Regions from separate parts of the Homo sapiens genome. Here region 2 is linked to region 1. A link means that fine-mapping ties the variant in region 1 to the expression of a gene that starts in the linked region. Tissue or cell type: lung. Region 1 holds a variant in brackets; the other region holds the start of a gene. All regions are shown on one strand. Distances are between the middles of the regions.

What was found. PIP is the estimated chance that this variant, and not a neighbour inherited with it, causes the effect.
Region 2: it holds the start of SLC35F2, and the variant in region 1 is fine-mapped to the expression of SLC35F2 in lung (TOPMed, PIP above 0.99).

Annotation. Positions count from the first base shown.
Region 1 is chr11:107,776,964-107,785,068 of GRCh38, reverse strand. No RefSeq gene overlaps it. Among named protein-coding and RNA genes, the nearest start is that of SLN, 69 kb to the right of the region's middle. The variant T/G (reference allele first, on the strand shown) is at 4,879.
Region 2 is chr11:107,854,230-107,862,334 of GRCh38, reverse strand. SLC35F2 (solute carrier family 35 member F2) reads left to right here and starts at 3,548. Exons shown (of 8, transcript NM_017515.5): 1 at 3,548-3,677. The coding sequence starts at 3,568. LOC124902746 (a long non-coding RNA gene) reads right to left here and starts at 3,105. Exons shown (of 2, transcript XR_007062876.1): 1 at 2,681-3,105; 2 at 1,346-2,589. RefSeq lists a silencer at 3,423-3,732 and an enhancer at 3,953-4,022.

The DNA of each region.
Region 1 (8,105 bases):
TCTCACTTTAATTATCATCTAGCCCAATTCCCTTTTTAAAGATAAATAAGGGAAGGCACAGGAAAGCGATGTGATTTGTCTGAGTTTTATGCCAAACGAAAATGGATTCTTAGTTCATTACTGGATTCCTAGTTCATTACTAATTCTCACTTAGCAGAATGTCAGAAACACTGGAGATGCTTTTAAAAATAGAGATTATCAAGCCCTATCCCAGAACTACTGAGTCAGTCTCCAGGGGTGGAGGCCAGGGATCTCTGAGCACACATTTCCTAAAATATTTTGCTTAATAATAAACCTGGGCTTGGTGTGGTGGCTCACACCTTTAAACCCAGCCCTTTGGGAGGCCAAGGCGGGAGGATCACTTGAGGCCAGGAGGCCAGAAGTTCAAGGTCAGCCAACACAGTGATACCTTGTCTGTACAAAAAAGAAGAAAAAAAAATTAGTCAGGCATGGTGGCATGCATCTGTAGTCCCAGCTCACTCAGGAGGTTGAGATAGGAGGCTCACTTGAGCCCAGACATTTGAGGTTGCAGTGAGCTATGATTGCCACCACTGCACTCCAGCCTAGGTGACAGCAAGACCCTGTGTCAAAAATAAAATAAAATAAAATTTAAAAATAAAACTCTATCTCTATAGGGATAATGGTGTAATGGTGAAGTAGAGAATCTCAGGTGACAAAAATCTCATCTGTCCATCAAGGTTGATCTCAAATGTAGTCTCTTAGGAACCCTTTCTCAGCCTGGGTCCCACCCGCCTTTAAGCTTCCATAGTCTTTGCTCATATCTTCCTTTTAGCACTTACCACAGTGCTTGTGGTTTATCCACCTGCCCTTCCTCACCCCAGTTGGAGCTCTTGTAGGTCAACAGTGGCCTTTTTTCCTTTTTTTTTTGAGACAGGAGTCTCGCTCTGCACCAGGCTGGAGTGCAGTGGCATGATCTCGGCTCGCTGCAACCTCCGCCTCCCAGGTTCAAGCAATTCTCCTGCCTCAGCCTCCTGGGTAGCTGGGATTACAGGTACCCACCACCACACCTGGCTAATTTTTATATTTTTTAGTAGAGACGGGGTTTCATCATGTTGGCCAGGGTGGTCTTGAACTCCTGACCTCAGTTGATCCGCCCCCCTTGGCCTCCTTAAGTGCTGGGATTATAGGCGTGAGCCACCGTGCCCGGCCCCTTTCTTCATCTTTCTAGCCCATTGGTCAGCTCACCTCTTGGGTTAAATAAACTTTACCTTTTGTCTCAGTAGAGAACACTGAAGGGGACACTGACCTAAAGTAAAGCCTTCTATGCAGACACATGTGGTTAGCAAGTTGTCCTACCCTGCTCTGTTCTCTTTCTTGCTGGGCCTTTTAGTCCTAGTCTTTCCCTTTGCCTGCTCCTCATCTGGAGAGGGGCAGAGGAATTCCAATCAGGGCATCCCAAGTTAAAAAACAATGTCCCAGAGAAGCAATGGTATGAATGACAGCTATTATATCATAATACTGTGCAAGGCTATGCATCCTGGTTTAAAGAAATTTGTGAGAACTGGGAATTTAACCAGCCTGTATAACACTGCTTCCTTGAAAAATTTATTTTCAAACATCTGGCTTACATGAGATCTTAAAAATTTTTTAAAAATAATATATTTTAATCAATATATTTAAAATATTATTTCAGTGTGTCACTAGCCACATTTCATGTATCCAATAGCCGCATGTGGCTGGTGACTACCCTGTTGAACAATGAACTCTTAACTTCTTCAAATTAGACTGTTAGAGTAGGTGGGCAGGCAAACATGAACACCACAGGAGAGGGCTCTCCCTAAGGAACCTTAGGCAACCATCTGGTGATGGTCAGGCGCTTTTTAAACTCTCCGTCTAAAATAATAACTGGTCACAGCTAGCACCAGGGAAAGGCGGTCTCCCAATAGATACAAAACACCTGAAGCTGGTTATCAGCAGCTTCCCAATAAGATCTTAGGAGCTGAGTGAGTGTGCTCACCCATGCACACTAAGATGCAAAATGGCGGAGTTTAACTGGTATATGACATCCCTCCAGGAAGCCTGGACTGGTAAGGGCAAAAATGCCTCAAATGAGCATGTGCACAACTTCAGTAAACACACTGCGCATGCGACCCCTCCCAAGTGCTGGCAGGCACTGCGCACGCGGACAGTCCACCCCAAGGAATAATCAAGGGAGGAGAGACTCAAAACTCCATTTGGATCTCTGAAGTCACCTGCTTGGTCCTCTTCCAAGTGTACTTTACTTTTTTTTACTGCTCTAAAGCTTTTCTTTTTTTTTCAAAAAAAATTTGAGACAGAACCTCACTCTGTCGTCCAGGCTGGAGTGAAATGGCATGATGTTGGCTCATTGCAGCCTCTGCCTTCCGGGTTTAAGCAATTCTCCTGCCTCAGCCTTCGGAGTAGCTGGGATTAAAGACACACACCACAACGCCCAGCTAATTTTTGTGTTTTTTAGTAGTGTTGGGGGGTCTCACCATGTTGGCCAGGCTAGTCTGGCTAGTCTGGCCTCAAATGATCCGCCTGCCTCGGCCTCCCAAAGTGCTGGGATTACAGGTGTGAGCCACCACGCCTGGCCCCTGCTCTAAAGCTTTTTAATAAACTTCCATTCCTGCTCTAAAACGTGCCTTGGTCTCTCACTCTGCCTTGACTCTTAGACTAATTATTTCCTCTGAGGAGGCAAGAATCGAGTTGCTGCAGACCTATACAGAATCACGGCTGCTCACAAGACTCTCCTAGGGATTGTTGATATAAATTGTCTTATTACAGAGATTGAATCTAAGTTATCACAACATTTAAAATCAGAAATACATTTGATAACAACCATTTTCATAAAGAATCTTTAAGTGAGTATTTTACTAGAAAATTCCATTCATGAAGATAAGAAATTATTTATCTAAATGCGTGCTGATCCCTGAGGCTAAAAATCAGGATCAAGCACAAGCTTTTGAAACACACCTTCTTTAGTTGAAAACCTCCTCTAAGGCCGGGCGCGGTGGCTCACAACTGTAATCCCAGCACTTTGGGAGGCAGAGGCAGGTAGATCACAAGGTCAGGAGTTCGTGACCAGCCTGGCTAATACGGTGAAACCCCGTTTCTACTAAAAATACAAAAAAAAAAAAAAAAAAAAAAAAAAATTAGCCGGGTGTGGTGGCGGGCGCCTGTAGTCTCAGCTACTTGGGAGGCTGAGGCAGGAGAATGGCGTGAACCTGGGAGGCGGAGCTTGCAGTGAGCCGTGATCACGCCACTGCACTCCAGCCTGGGCAACAGAATGAGACTCCATCTCAAAAAAAAGAAAGAAAAAAGAAAACCTCCTCTAAATGCTTTTTAAGAGCCTATTGGAACAATATTTATTGATTTTAAAATTTTTTTGTAGACATTAATGCCATTTAAAAAAAAAAAACAAAACCCAGCCGGGCACAGTGCCTCACATCTGTAATCCCAGCACTTTGGGAGGCCGAGGTGGGCGGATCACCTGTGGTCAGGAGTTCGAGACCAGCCTGACCAACATGGAGAAACCCTGCTCTACTAAAAATACAAAATTAGCCGGGCATGGTGGCGCATGCCTGTAATCCCAGCTACCTGGGAGGCTGAGGCAGGAGAATCGCTTGAACCTGGGAGGCGGAGGTTGCAGTGAGCCGAGATTGTACCATTGCACTCCAGCCTGGGCAAGAAGAGCAAAATTCCGTCTCAAAAAAGAAAAAGAAACAACAAGCAAACAAACAAACAAACAGCACTGCTGGTGGCTGGCACCTGTAATCCCAGCACTTTGGGAGGCTGAGATGGGAGGACTGTTTGAGCCCAACAGTTGGAGACCAGCCTGGGCAACATAGTTGCAACATAGCCGTCCCCTACCCCCCATTAAATTAGAAAAAAAAAGTATTTAAAAAAAGCCCAAACTCTACTGATGAATAGTATAACAGAGTTGCTACATTTTCCATAGTGTTGTGTAGATGAAGTATACTGTGCAACTGGACTGGGGCAACACTGTAAGAAGAGAGGATTTTGCTGGTGTCACTTTCACTATTTGTGTTTTGAAACAAAGTTGTCTTCAGCCTCTTAAGGAATTGGTATATATTTATGGGTGGACTTTCCAGCAGGTGGCACTTTAACAATTGTAACAACCTAAAGACCGTTTGCATAAACAATAGTGTTGACATTTTATAGTGCTTCCATAACGTCCTGTAAATCAAAGTGTTTTGTTTTAAAAAGGGTATTATAAAGATTGTCCTCATCAGGGGCTACCTTTGGTTAACAGATGAATAATTGTTGGAAGCTAAACAATGGGTACACGTGGACATACAGAGTGTAATAATAGATACTGGAGACTCCAAAAAGTGGCAGGGTGGGAGGGAGGTGAGGGTTGAAAAATTACCTGTTGTGTACAGTGTTCATTATTTGGGTGATGGGTACACTAAAAGCCCAGATTTCACCACTACCCAATATACACGTGTAAGAAACCTGCACTTATACACACATATATATGTCATAAATATATATAATATATATAAAATATATATTATATATATTATTTTTTCTTGTTTTTTCCCTTTTTTTTTTAAGCCTCTGTGGCACTGGTATGTCAGGCCAGGTTTCCATTATCAACCAGAACAGTCAGGTTCACTAACCCTTTTCTGATGAATGTGTAAGTTAAACATAAAAAAACTGAAGAAATTGGTGCCTGAGGGTGAGCGCTGGAATGCAAAAACAAACCCATTAAGACCTGGCCTGGGTTTTCTCCGGCCCTAAAGTCTGATCAAATAATAAAGGCATTCTTACACATACACCTCGTGCCAGAGCTCATTCAAGATGAAGAAACTTTCCAAGACTCTAGAGAAAGCTTTCCAGACCCTAGACCCTAGATAAAGATTAGATATAGAT[T/G]GAATGAAACACTGCCACTTTTAGGTGCACTACCACACATGGGCAAATAACTTAGAATATGTATAAGCACTGAAAAAAAAAAACCTTGTAAATTTGAGTTGGTCGGGTGAGTTACTCTGACCTGCCTGAAACCGGTTGCAGAAATAAACTCCCTTCTTTCTCAGTCTGTCTGCATCTCATTATTGAACTATGAGAACAAGCAGCTGGACCCCTCGTTCTGTCTGGGTACACTGGCAGAGGAACAGACACATAGATCAATTGGACCTAGGAAAAAACTCACACAAATATGCTGAAATTAATTTTTGACAAAAGTGCAAAAGCAGTTCAATGGAGGAAAGATAGTCTTTTCAACAAGTGGTTCTGGAGCAACTGGACATCTACTGGGAAAAAAAATAAACATTGACTATGTCGGTTAGAAAAAAACGGTTGAAGAACTGGGGTCCCGGCCAGGCGCGGTGGCTCACACCTGTAATCCCAGCATTTTCGGAGACTGAGGCAGGTGGATCACCTGAAGTCAGGAGTTCGAGACCAGCCTGGCCAACATGGTGAAACCAGGTCTCTACTAAAAATACAAAAATTAGCTGGGCGTGGTGGCTCGTGCCTGTAATCCCAGCTGCTTGGGAGGCTGAGGCAGGAGAATTGCTTGAACCCAGGAGACAGAGGTTGCAGTGAGCCAACACAGTGCCACTGCACTCCAGCCTCGGCGACAGAGTGAGACTCTGTCTCAAAAAAAACCAAAAACCAAAAACAAACAAAGAATTGGGGTCTCAGAAAAGTTGAAATATCTGTCTCAGGTCACACAGAGTTTGGTGGCTAAGGTAAAAACAGAAACCAGGATTTTAACCTTTCAGTTTAGTCAGCAGCCAAAGTCTCCGCTCTGTAAATTCTGAAGGGGTCATGGTTGCTGTGGCACTGCTGAGACAGCAAATACAAATGCATCTCTAATGAGAGCTGTTGGGATGATTTTCTTGGAAAAACTAGCTTGGTAATACAGTTTTATCTGCAACGCTGGGGGCTGCCCTTTTAAGAAGCTGTCTACAGTTTGTCTCTGTGAGGTCTTACGTATGCCTAGTCACGATTCTCTTTTCTGTCATAATTATGGTGATGTGCCATTTCATCTACATTTAATCACTTAGTATCTGGACATATCCTCAGCCTTCAAAATACATCAATAAATCAGGGAAATTTAGCAGATAGCCACTTAGCTGATTAAAAGGCAAGAGATTTATGAGGAAATTAGATAATGCTGACCATGCAGTTCTCTAGTAGTCCTTTAAAGGGTGTTTTGAGAAGTCTGGCAATATATAAATGGTGCATTAGAGGAAGCAAAGCCTCTTCAGAACGACAAAATTTTACCCATCCTTCATGCACAAACCTGTAGGATTTAATGTTCCAAGCTTTCTTCTCCCAATGCTCAAACTTTTACAATGTACCTTAATCCTCGGTTTAAATACTTTCCTCTTCTAGCAATCTTTTCTTTTCTTTTCTTTTCTTTTGAGACGGAGTTTTGCTCTTGTTGCCCAGGCTGGAGTGCAATGGTGCAGTCTCGTCTCATCGCAACCTCCGCCTCCCGGGTTCAAGCAATTCTCCTGCCTCAGCCTCCTGAGTAGCTGGGATTACAGGCATGCATCACCATGCCCAGCTAATTTTGTGTTTTTAGTAGAGATGAGGTTTCTCCATGTTGGTCAGGCTGGATCTCGAACTCCCAACCTCAGGTGATCTGCCTCCTTGACCTCCCAAAGTGCTGGGATTACCGGTGTGAGCCACTGCACCCGGCCTCTTCCAGCAATCTTAATTTAAAATGTGAACACTTTTGGAGAAGGAAATGAAAGAATTCGTACCAATTTTAAGAGGCCATTTGAACAATTATTAGCTCCAACTGACCATAAACAAGCATTCAGATGGTTCCATATATGCCTCACTCAATCAGCTATTACATTCACTGCCTGCCCATTGGGGAGGCCACAGTCTGTACACAATGTGTGATGTAGAGAACTTGTAGTGCTAGTAGCTGGGGTTTCCATGCTGTCTTTTTCCATTTATGCTGCTATAACAGAACACCCAGAAAGTTCATTCCTTCTTACACCATGAGAGGACACAGTGTATCTACAAGCCAGGAAGAGTGACTTCACCAGACATGGATTCTGTTGGCAGCTTGATCTTGGACTTCCCAGCCTCCAGGACTGTGAGAAATAAATTTCTGTTGTTCATGAGCCAGCTAATCTATAGTATTTTTGTTATGGCAGTGTGAATGGACCAAGACATGCCTTATTCTGCTTTGCAGTGTATCAAAATCTCAATGGAATGGGAAAGGTCAGAAACAAACACTTTTTACATATTCAACATAGAACCAAACATAAAGCCTTAAAAATAACAGGAACTCAGTAATATTGCATTTGTATTTGTTGATTAACTATGCTTTTTCCTATGTTCTATCAGATCCTAAACTTGTGAATCACTACTTTTTGTTTGGGTAAGTAGTAATAATCCTACCATGTAACAAAGCAAAAAGTGATTTAATATTCAAGACATTGCCCAAATATGATATCTCTAAATTGCATATTAATCTTTTCCAGGAAGTCTTTCTTGGCATAACGTAAATGGGACAGAACAAAGAATTTTAGAAGATGCTTGATGAGGAAGTGCTACTCCTATTTAGAAAAAGGAAAGCTTAATTCAATAGGTTATATTTTCTATGGTTGGAACACATGCTATTGACAAATGACAAAGTAAATAGAAGGGGAGTGAGAGGAACATATGATTATTCCGGTGTTAACATGAATGTTTGTGAAAATGACTATATTTGGGAGCCAGAATCTGCATATCTGAGTAGATGATTCACACTCTTACAGACTCTGCAGACGACTGCTTAGGATTGAAGAAACAGGTTCTATCATTAAAAAGCTGGATGATCTAGGGTGATGCTTTTTCACTTCCCTTTCATAACTCTCATTGATCTAACAATAGTATGTGCCTGGCAATGGACTGTTTTTTAAAAACATACATTGTCTTATATAAACTTCACATCTTAAGGAGGCATATACTATTTATATCTCCATTTAACCAATGAGGAAATGAAGGCTTGTACCAGGCAGGATAGAATTAGGTTATGCTACTATAACAAACAACACCAAATATCTTATTGGCTTAAAACAAGATTTAATTTTTGGCTGGCTGGGCATGGTGGCTCATACCTGTAATCCCAGCACTTTGGGAGGCCAAGGTGG
Region 2 (8,105 bases), 77 kb before region 1:
TCCTGCATTCAAGTGATTCTCCTGCCTCAGCCTCCTGAGTAGCTGGGATTACAGGCGTGCACCACCATGCCTGGATAATTTTTGTATTTTTAGTAGAGATGGGGGTTTCGCCATGGTGGCAAAACTGGTCTCGAACTCCTGACCTCGTGATCCACCCGCTTCAGCCTTCCAAAGTGCTGGGATTACAGGTGTGAGCCTCCATGCCTGGCCTCTGTTTCCCTCCTATGACACTGTGATTACATTATGGCCCACAGGATAATCTCTCCATCTCACGGTGTGTAACTTAATCACATCTGCAAAGTCCATTTTGCCACTCAAGGCAACATTCACAGGTTCTAGGGATTAGGACCTGGATATTTTGGGGGACATTATTCAGCTTGCTACAATGTCTAAATTCATCTTTTAATTTCATGTATTTATACAAAGGCATACATTTGACATAACAGGGACTCTATTGGCGGGCGTGGTGGCTCACACCTGTAATCCTGGCACTTTGGGAGGCCGAGGCAGGTGAATCACGAGGTCAGGAGATCGAGACCAACCTGGCCAACATGGTGAACTCCTGTCTCTACTAAAAATACAAGAATTAGCCGGGCATGGGCACATGCCTGTAGTCCCATCTACTTGGGGGGCTGAGGCAGGAGAATTGCTTGAACCAGGGAGTTGGAGGTTGCAGTGAGCTGAGATCGCACCACTGTATTCCAGCCTGACAAAGAGAGACTCCGTCTGAAAAAAAAAATAAAAGCGGGGGGACTCTATTATACGTGCCGGAGTTTTTTTTTGGGGGGTGTGTGTGTGTGTCTGTGTGTGTGTTTTAAAAGACTGTCTCACTATGTAGCCCCAGGCTGGTCTGAAACTCCTGAGCTCAAACAATCCTCCTGCCTCAGCCTCCTGAAGTGTTGGGATTACAGGTGTGAGCTACTGTGCCTGGCCCCCCACCCTCTTTTAAAGTTACTGGTGTTGACGTGTATCTTCTATTTTTCTTCATACTCACATAATCAAACATAGTAGTCCTCCCTTATGTTTCAAGACCCCCGGTGGGTGTCTGAAACTGCAGAGAGTATTTAGCCCTATACAGTATATACTTTTTTCCTACACATACCTATAATAAAATTTAATTTATAAAATTGGCACAGTAAGAAATTAACAACTCATAATAAAATAGAACAATTATAACAATATACTGTAATAAAAGTTATGTGAATGTGGTCTCTCTCTCAAAATATCTTACTATACTCTAGTCACCTATTTTCAGAGGGTAATTGGCTGTGGTAACTAAAACCGTGGAAATCAAAACCTCAGGTAAGGAGGTGACTACTGTATATATTGCAAATAAAAAATCAAATTTGGTTAAGGAGAGACTTTATTTGTAGGGATTATTGCAAATGGGGATGGGTGGGGACTGTGGGGAAGGGTTCCTGCAGTAGGAGGGGGCCTATTCCCTACTGGTGGGAAGTGGAATGAAAAGGTGGCTCTCCACTGGATAATAGATTAGAGAATGTTTCACCCTGAGGCCAACTTCTCAGGAGGGGCTATTAAGGAGGGGTTACCTGCGGCTCAGGGTCAGGGTGGGTGAAAGTTCAGAGGTATGAGGGAGGAAGAGAAATTCAACCAAAATCTTTGATTAAAAAAAAAAAGGTGGGAGGCTTCTTTTCTTTTCTCTTTCTTTCTTTCTCTCTTTCTCTCTTTCTTTCTTTTTTTTTTGAGACAGTCTTACTCTGTTGCCCAGGCTGAAGTGCAGTGGCACGATTTTGGCTCACTGCAACCTCTGCCTCCCGGGTTCAAGTGGTTCTCCTGCCTTAGCCTCCCAAGTAGCTGGGATTACAGGCACACACCAAAACGCCGGGCTAATTTTTGTAGTTTTAGTAGAGACGGGATTTCGCCATGTTGGTCAGGCTGGTCTCGAACTCCTGACCTCAGGAGTAATCCGCCCGCTTCGGTCTCCCAAAGCACTGGGATTACAGGCGTCAGCCACCGCGCCCGGCCTAGGAAGGTTTCTTAATTGTCATTACTTTCCAGGAGCACAGGGCTCAGGTAGAATTCAACGTTGTCAATATGCAGGGTTAAATGAGTTGTTTACTTTACAAAAGTGACATCTTAAATGTGCTTCTAATGTCCTCTTGTTTCATAATATGCTTGTATTATAATACTTAATTAGTCTCTACGGATGACCACGTTCTTAGTTTCAAAGGTTTTTTTGAGGTTCCTGCAGCTGCTAAACTTGGGGTTCCTGAAGTAATATTTCATTTTCGAAAGCTGTTTTTTTTCTTAGACTCCTCTTACAGAATTGCCAGCTCGTCTGCACAGCCTGTCTATTTGAACCTACGTTTATTTTGACCCACCCCAACCCCCAAAGCAGGTGGCCAGGAAAAAATAAAAGGTCCCAACACCTTTTCTTTTGTTTTCTGGATCTCCTCCTTTCCGGAAGCAGGGGGTCAGTGACAGGAACTTTTCGACCCCAGCTTAGTGTCTCTTAATCCCTCTTTAGCCCGTGGAAGCCTCGGAAGGCGTGGCCAGGGCAGGGCATCCAAGCCGAGCGCCGGGGGTTGGCACCGTCTCTCTCCCTGGCACGGCGGAGACAACTGAATACTGAAAGACAAAACCAACACACCGCGAGGAATGAGCCACGCCTCCATCCACGCCACAAAGGCACGTTTCCAAGATCTTTTTAGGATCTTACCCATGTTTTGCAGGGAAAAGCGACACAGACCTGAAGCGCCTTCAGGTTTTTTTTTTTTTTTTTTTTTTTTTTAAGACGACGTCTCCCTCTGTTGCCCAGGCTGGAGTGCAAAGGCGCGATCTTGGCTCACAACCGCCGCCTCCTGGGTTCAAGCGATTCTCCTGCCTCAGCCTCTCGAGTAGCTGGGACTACAGGCACCCGTCACCACGCCCGGCTAATTTTTGTATTTTTAGTAGAGACGGGGTTTCACCATATTTCCCAGTCTGGTCTCGAACTCCTGACCTCAGGTGATCCACCCGTCTCGGCCTCCCAAAGCGTTGGGATTACAGGTGTGAGCCAACGCGCCCTGCCAGCCTTCAGTTATTTTAATGAAGCGATTTTGTACAAATCAGCCAGAGGGAGGGAGAGTGGGAGGGAAGAGGAGGGGTCAGCCAGTCCTTCCAGTTAGGAGAGTCCCGGCTCACTCACTGCTTCTAACTCACTGCTCACTCACCGCTTCTTAGCTTAGGAATCACCTACAATAACCTCGTGTCACTGTATCTTGTGATTTCAAACAAGGAACCCTAAAAACCTGAAGGCACACTGGGTGCCGCTCAACAATAAGGCTCGGCTGCCAAGACGAAAAAAAAATTGCCCTTTCTCCTCCTGCCACCCTGGAGGTGCCAGGTTGTAATCTGCAAATGTATTGTCTGGCCCTTAGGGCTTGACAGTTAATGATTGGTCGCTGAAGGAGCCGAGCGGAGGAGCGAGAGGGACGCGAGCAAGCGAGCGAGGGAGGGAGCGCAGGGCCAGAGCGGAGCCCCAGCCGGCCGCACAGGCACCGCCTCCCGTCTTCCGGGACCCGGCACTTCGGGGGTTTTGGGCGCCGGAGACGCGCAAGGGCGCCGATGGAGGCAGACTCGCCAGCGGGCCCCGGCGCCCCAGAGCCCCTCGCGGAGGGAGCGGCGGCCGAGTTCTCCAGCCTGCTGCGCAGGATAAAAGGCAAACTCTTCACCTGGTGAGTGGAAGGGGCGTGCTGCAGCTCCGCTGGGGCGTGGGGGCGGCTGCGGGCCCTGCGCGCACGTGGACAAGGAGCACACTCTCTGAGGCCCCCAGCAGGGAGGCAGAGGTGGCGGCCGCACGGACTTCGGTTCGGGGCTCAACACGCACACCAGGTATGGTGCGCTTCACCTGGCGTCGGGAAGCACTTGGTGCGTCTCCCTCGGCTCCCGTTTCGAAATCGTGGCGATGTATTTTGGAGGATTTGGGGGGAAACCCACCCTGTGGCACTATTAGGTCGGTCCTCTGGGGCGTTCCGCGGTGGAGGGACGAGGTCCCCGGGGATGCTGTGAAGGAGGAGTGCCCACCTCGGGCTGGGCAGGTGGGTGAGCGCCACTTCCTGGCGCCGGCGCCCTCATTCCATCTGCTGCCGAGCCAGCCAGACTGGGCGCGGTGATTCAAGAGTTGACCGAAGTGAGAAATCCTGGTTAAGTTTTGTGCTGCTGCCGGGTGGGAGACCAGAGCCGGCTCTCTCTTCCTGGGCCTGAGCGAGGTGATATAGCCACCCCCAGGGCTGGGGTCCAGGGAAGCCTGTTTGTGGTATCACTATGCTCTGTGCGAAGTAGGGACAAATGTTTTTAAGGAGTGGGCAGCGACTCTAGAAAGCGTTTCTGTGGTTGCTGGAGGACTTGCACTCTGGAAATGAGAGAACCCAGGACCTAAATAGTGAAAGACATTTATTGGGCACTCGCTCTGTGTCAGGTACTGTGCATAACAATTTATATGGATAATATCAGCTAATCCTCACCACTTTAGGAGATGGTACTATTGTTATATCCACTTTGCCGCTGGAGAAACAAAGAAGGCTAAGCAATTTGCCCAAGGCCACAAGATGATCTTTAAGGGGTGATGCGTTCAAGCCGTAGTCTAAACAGCGTTGGCCACTGACAACTCATGAAACAGATATTTGATTTTTTTTTCATATTAACAAAGCGAATTTCCCTTTAACGATTGTGAAAGATAGTCCTGAAAAGCCATACCATTTTAAAAACGAGATCGATAAAGGTGTAAGCATTTTTTATCATATAAATAGTTTGAAATTGATGCATGTGTTTAAAGGGGAAAGTTGGCCGAAAACCACCTTGTAGCATCCAGTTGTGTATGTCCTGATACATTTGTTAAAAGTTCTCAGCTGGGAGGCAATTCAGTGTAATGGCTAAGGGCACTCACATTCTGGACTCAAATCCTGGCTGGGTGACCTTGGACAAGTCAGTTCTCTGTGCTCCAGTTCCCTCCCTTCCCTCCCTCTCTCCCTCTCTCCTTCCTTCCTTCCCTCTCTCTCCTTCCTTCCTTCCTTCCCTCTCTCCTTCCTTCGTTCCCTCTCTCCTTCCTTCCGTCCTTCCTTCCACAAGTCAGTTATCTGTACTCCAGTTCCCTCCCTCCCTCCCTCCCTCCTTCTTTGTTCCTTCCTTCCGTCCGTGTCCGTCCGTCTTGGACAAGTCACTTAACTTCTCTGTGCTCCAGTCTCCCTCCCTCCCTTCCTTCCTCCCTTCCTTCCTCCCTTCCTTCTGCTGGGTGACCTTGGACAAATCAGTTCTCTGTGCTCCAGTTCCCTCCCTCCGCCCCTCCCTTCCTTCCTGCCTTCCTTCCTTCCTGGACAAGTCACTTCTCTGTGCTTCAGTCTCCCTCCCTCCCTTCCTTCTTGGACAAGTCACTTAACTTCTCTGTGCTCCAGTCTCCTTCCCTCTTTTCCCTCCCTCCCTCCCTCCCTTCCTTCCTTCCCTCCCTCCCTTCCTTCCTTCCTGCCTTCCTTCCTTCCTTCCTGGACAAGTCACTTCTCTGTGCTCCGGTCTCCCTCTCTCCCTCCCTCCCTCCCTTCTTGGACAAGTCACTTAACTTCTCTGTGCTCCAGTCTCCCTCCCTCTTTTCTCTCCCTCCCTCCCTCCCTCCTGACGGAGTCTCATTCTGTCACCTTCCTTCCTGACAGAGTCTCATTCTGTCACCCAGGCCTGAGTGCAGAGGCTCTATCTCAGCTAACTGCAACCTCAACCTTTCGGGTTCAAGCGATTATCCTGCCTCAGCCTCCGAAGTAGCTGGGATTACAGATGTATACCACCACGCCAGGCTAATTTTTTCATGCTTTTAGTAGAGATGGGGTTTCCCCATGTTGACCAGGCTGGTCTTGAACTCCTGACCTCAAGTGATGCACCCACCTCCGCCTCCCAAAGTAGTGGGATTACAGGCGTGAGCCACCGCGCCCAGCCTGTGCTCCAGTTTTCTTATTTGTAAAATGGAGATAATAACAGTACCTACCTTGTAGTGCTGTTACAAGGTTACTATGCAGGAAAGGGCAGACAGAGCCTGGCTCCTTTCAGTGCTCTATATGGGTTAGTTGTCACCATTAGCTCTCTATTCTTGGGTGATGGGAACATTTGGTGATTGCTTCAGGAGATGCCAGTGGCCTTGAGGCTGGGGCAGATGATATGGCAAGATGTATGTTTAACAAGATGTGATAAGAATTAACAATGATTTTCTTTTCTTTTCTTCTTCTTCTTTTTTTTTTTTTTTTTTGAGACAGAGTTTTGCTCTTGTTGCCCAGGCTGGAGTGCAGCGGCACGATCATGGCTCACTGCAACCTCTGCCTCCCGGGTTCAAGTGATTCTCCTGCCTCAGCCTCCTGAGTAGCTAGGATTACAGGCGCCTGCCACCATGCCCGGCTAATTTTTAATACAGACAGGATTTCACCATGTTGGCCAGGCTGGTCTTGAGCTCCTGACCTCAGGTGATCCATCTACCTCAGCCTCCAAAAGTGCTGGGATTATAAGCGTAAGCCACCGTGCCTGGCCTGATTTTTTTTTTTCTCTCCTAATGTTCTGATACTTTTGGAATCCGGGTATGTTTTATAATCAGTCTAGTAGCCTCCTAAATATGAGATTTCTTTTGTCTATGAATGTCCTTTTTATGTATCTCTTTGAGGGCTTTTTCCTTTCTTGTGGAATAGCAGTTATGGGCATTTTTTTTTTTTAGACAGAGTTTCACTGTTGTTGCCCAGGCTGGAGTTCAATGGCGCGATCTCGGCTCACCGCAACCTCCGCCTCCCGGGTTCAAGCTCTTCTTCTACCTCAGCCTGCCAAGTAGCTGGGATTACAGGCATGCACCACCACACCTGGCTAATTTTGTATTTTTTGTAGAGATGGGGCTTCTCCATGTTGGTCAGGCTGTTCTCGAACTCCCAACCTCAGGTGATCCGCCCGCCTCGGCCTCCCAAAGTGCTGGGATTACAGGTGTGAGCCACACGCCTGGCCATGGACGAAGTTCTTTAACAGCAAAAATGGTGTCTTTTTCTTTTTTATATCTACCACAACCCTTAGCACATGAATGAATGAATGAGTGAATGACTGAGGGATGACAAAGGTTCACAAGTCTTCCTTTCCATTCTGCCTCCCTCCCTGAACTCTTCCCTTTATTGGTCTTTATTCCAAGGGTCTTGGGCTGAGCTTCTTGTTTGGTTGGCTGGGCTCTTTTGTTAATTAAAGTTTCCATTCCTACCTCTGGCAGCCATCCAAGCACTTGGATTTTGGATTGCAGTTTCTCTTTATCAGACCCAGCAATCAGAAAAGAGTGGTTTACCAGATATCCAGTACTCCTAATACTCAATATTTTAAGCTTTGTTGTCAAAACTCATGTCCCAAGTTTGAGTAGCTTTGTGAATCCCCACCTGTGGCCAGGGAACCAAGGGTGGGAGAGTGTAGAAAGAGGTTGGTGAATGGATATGATGTGTTATCACCATATGGGCAAGATACAGAGAGAGATTTATAACCACATAGCTCATTTCTATTCCTTTTACCAAAAAGGGGCAAGAAGAGGCTTTTTGGGCAACTGGGTACTAAATACAGGGAGAAGATTGGGGCATAGAGCTTGTTATGTTTTCATTATGAGGAGGATATGTTCTAAGTGACCCCAGCTCTTAATATACCTGCCCCCATAGGGTACAGACAACTTTTCTCTATGATTAGGAATATCAGATCACTCATTCAATAAAAGTTTATTGAACACTTACCATGTGCCAGACATTCATGATAATGAGAACCATATATTCCTTAGTGGAGTGTGTAATTTTGGCTTTTGTGATTTATTACTGTCAACTCAAGTGAAAAATATTGTGATAGAAGACCATAGACTTCCAGGAGTATCTGAGAATACTTCTTATTTAATTGTTTATTATTATTATTATCATCATTTTTTGAGACAGGCTCTCACTCTGTTGGCCAGGCTGGAGTGCAGTGGCTGATCATGGCTTACTGCAGCCTCGACCTCCGTGGCTCAAGTGATCCTCCCACCTCAGCCTCCTGAGTGGCTGGGACTATGGCATGCACTGCCACGCACTACTAGTTTTTTTTTTTTTTCCGTAGAGACAGGGTTTCACCATGTTGCCCAGGCTGGTCTC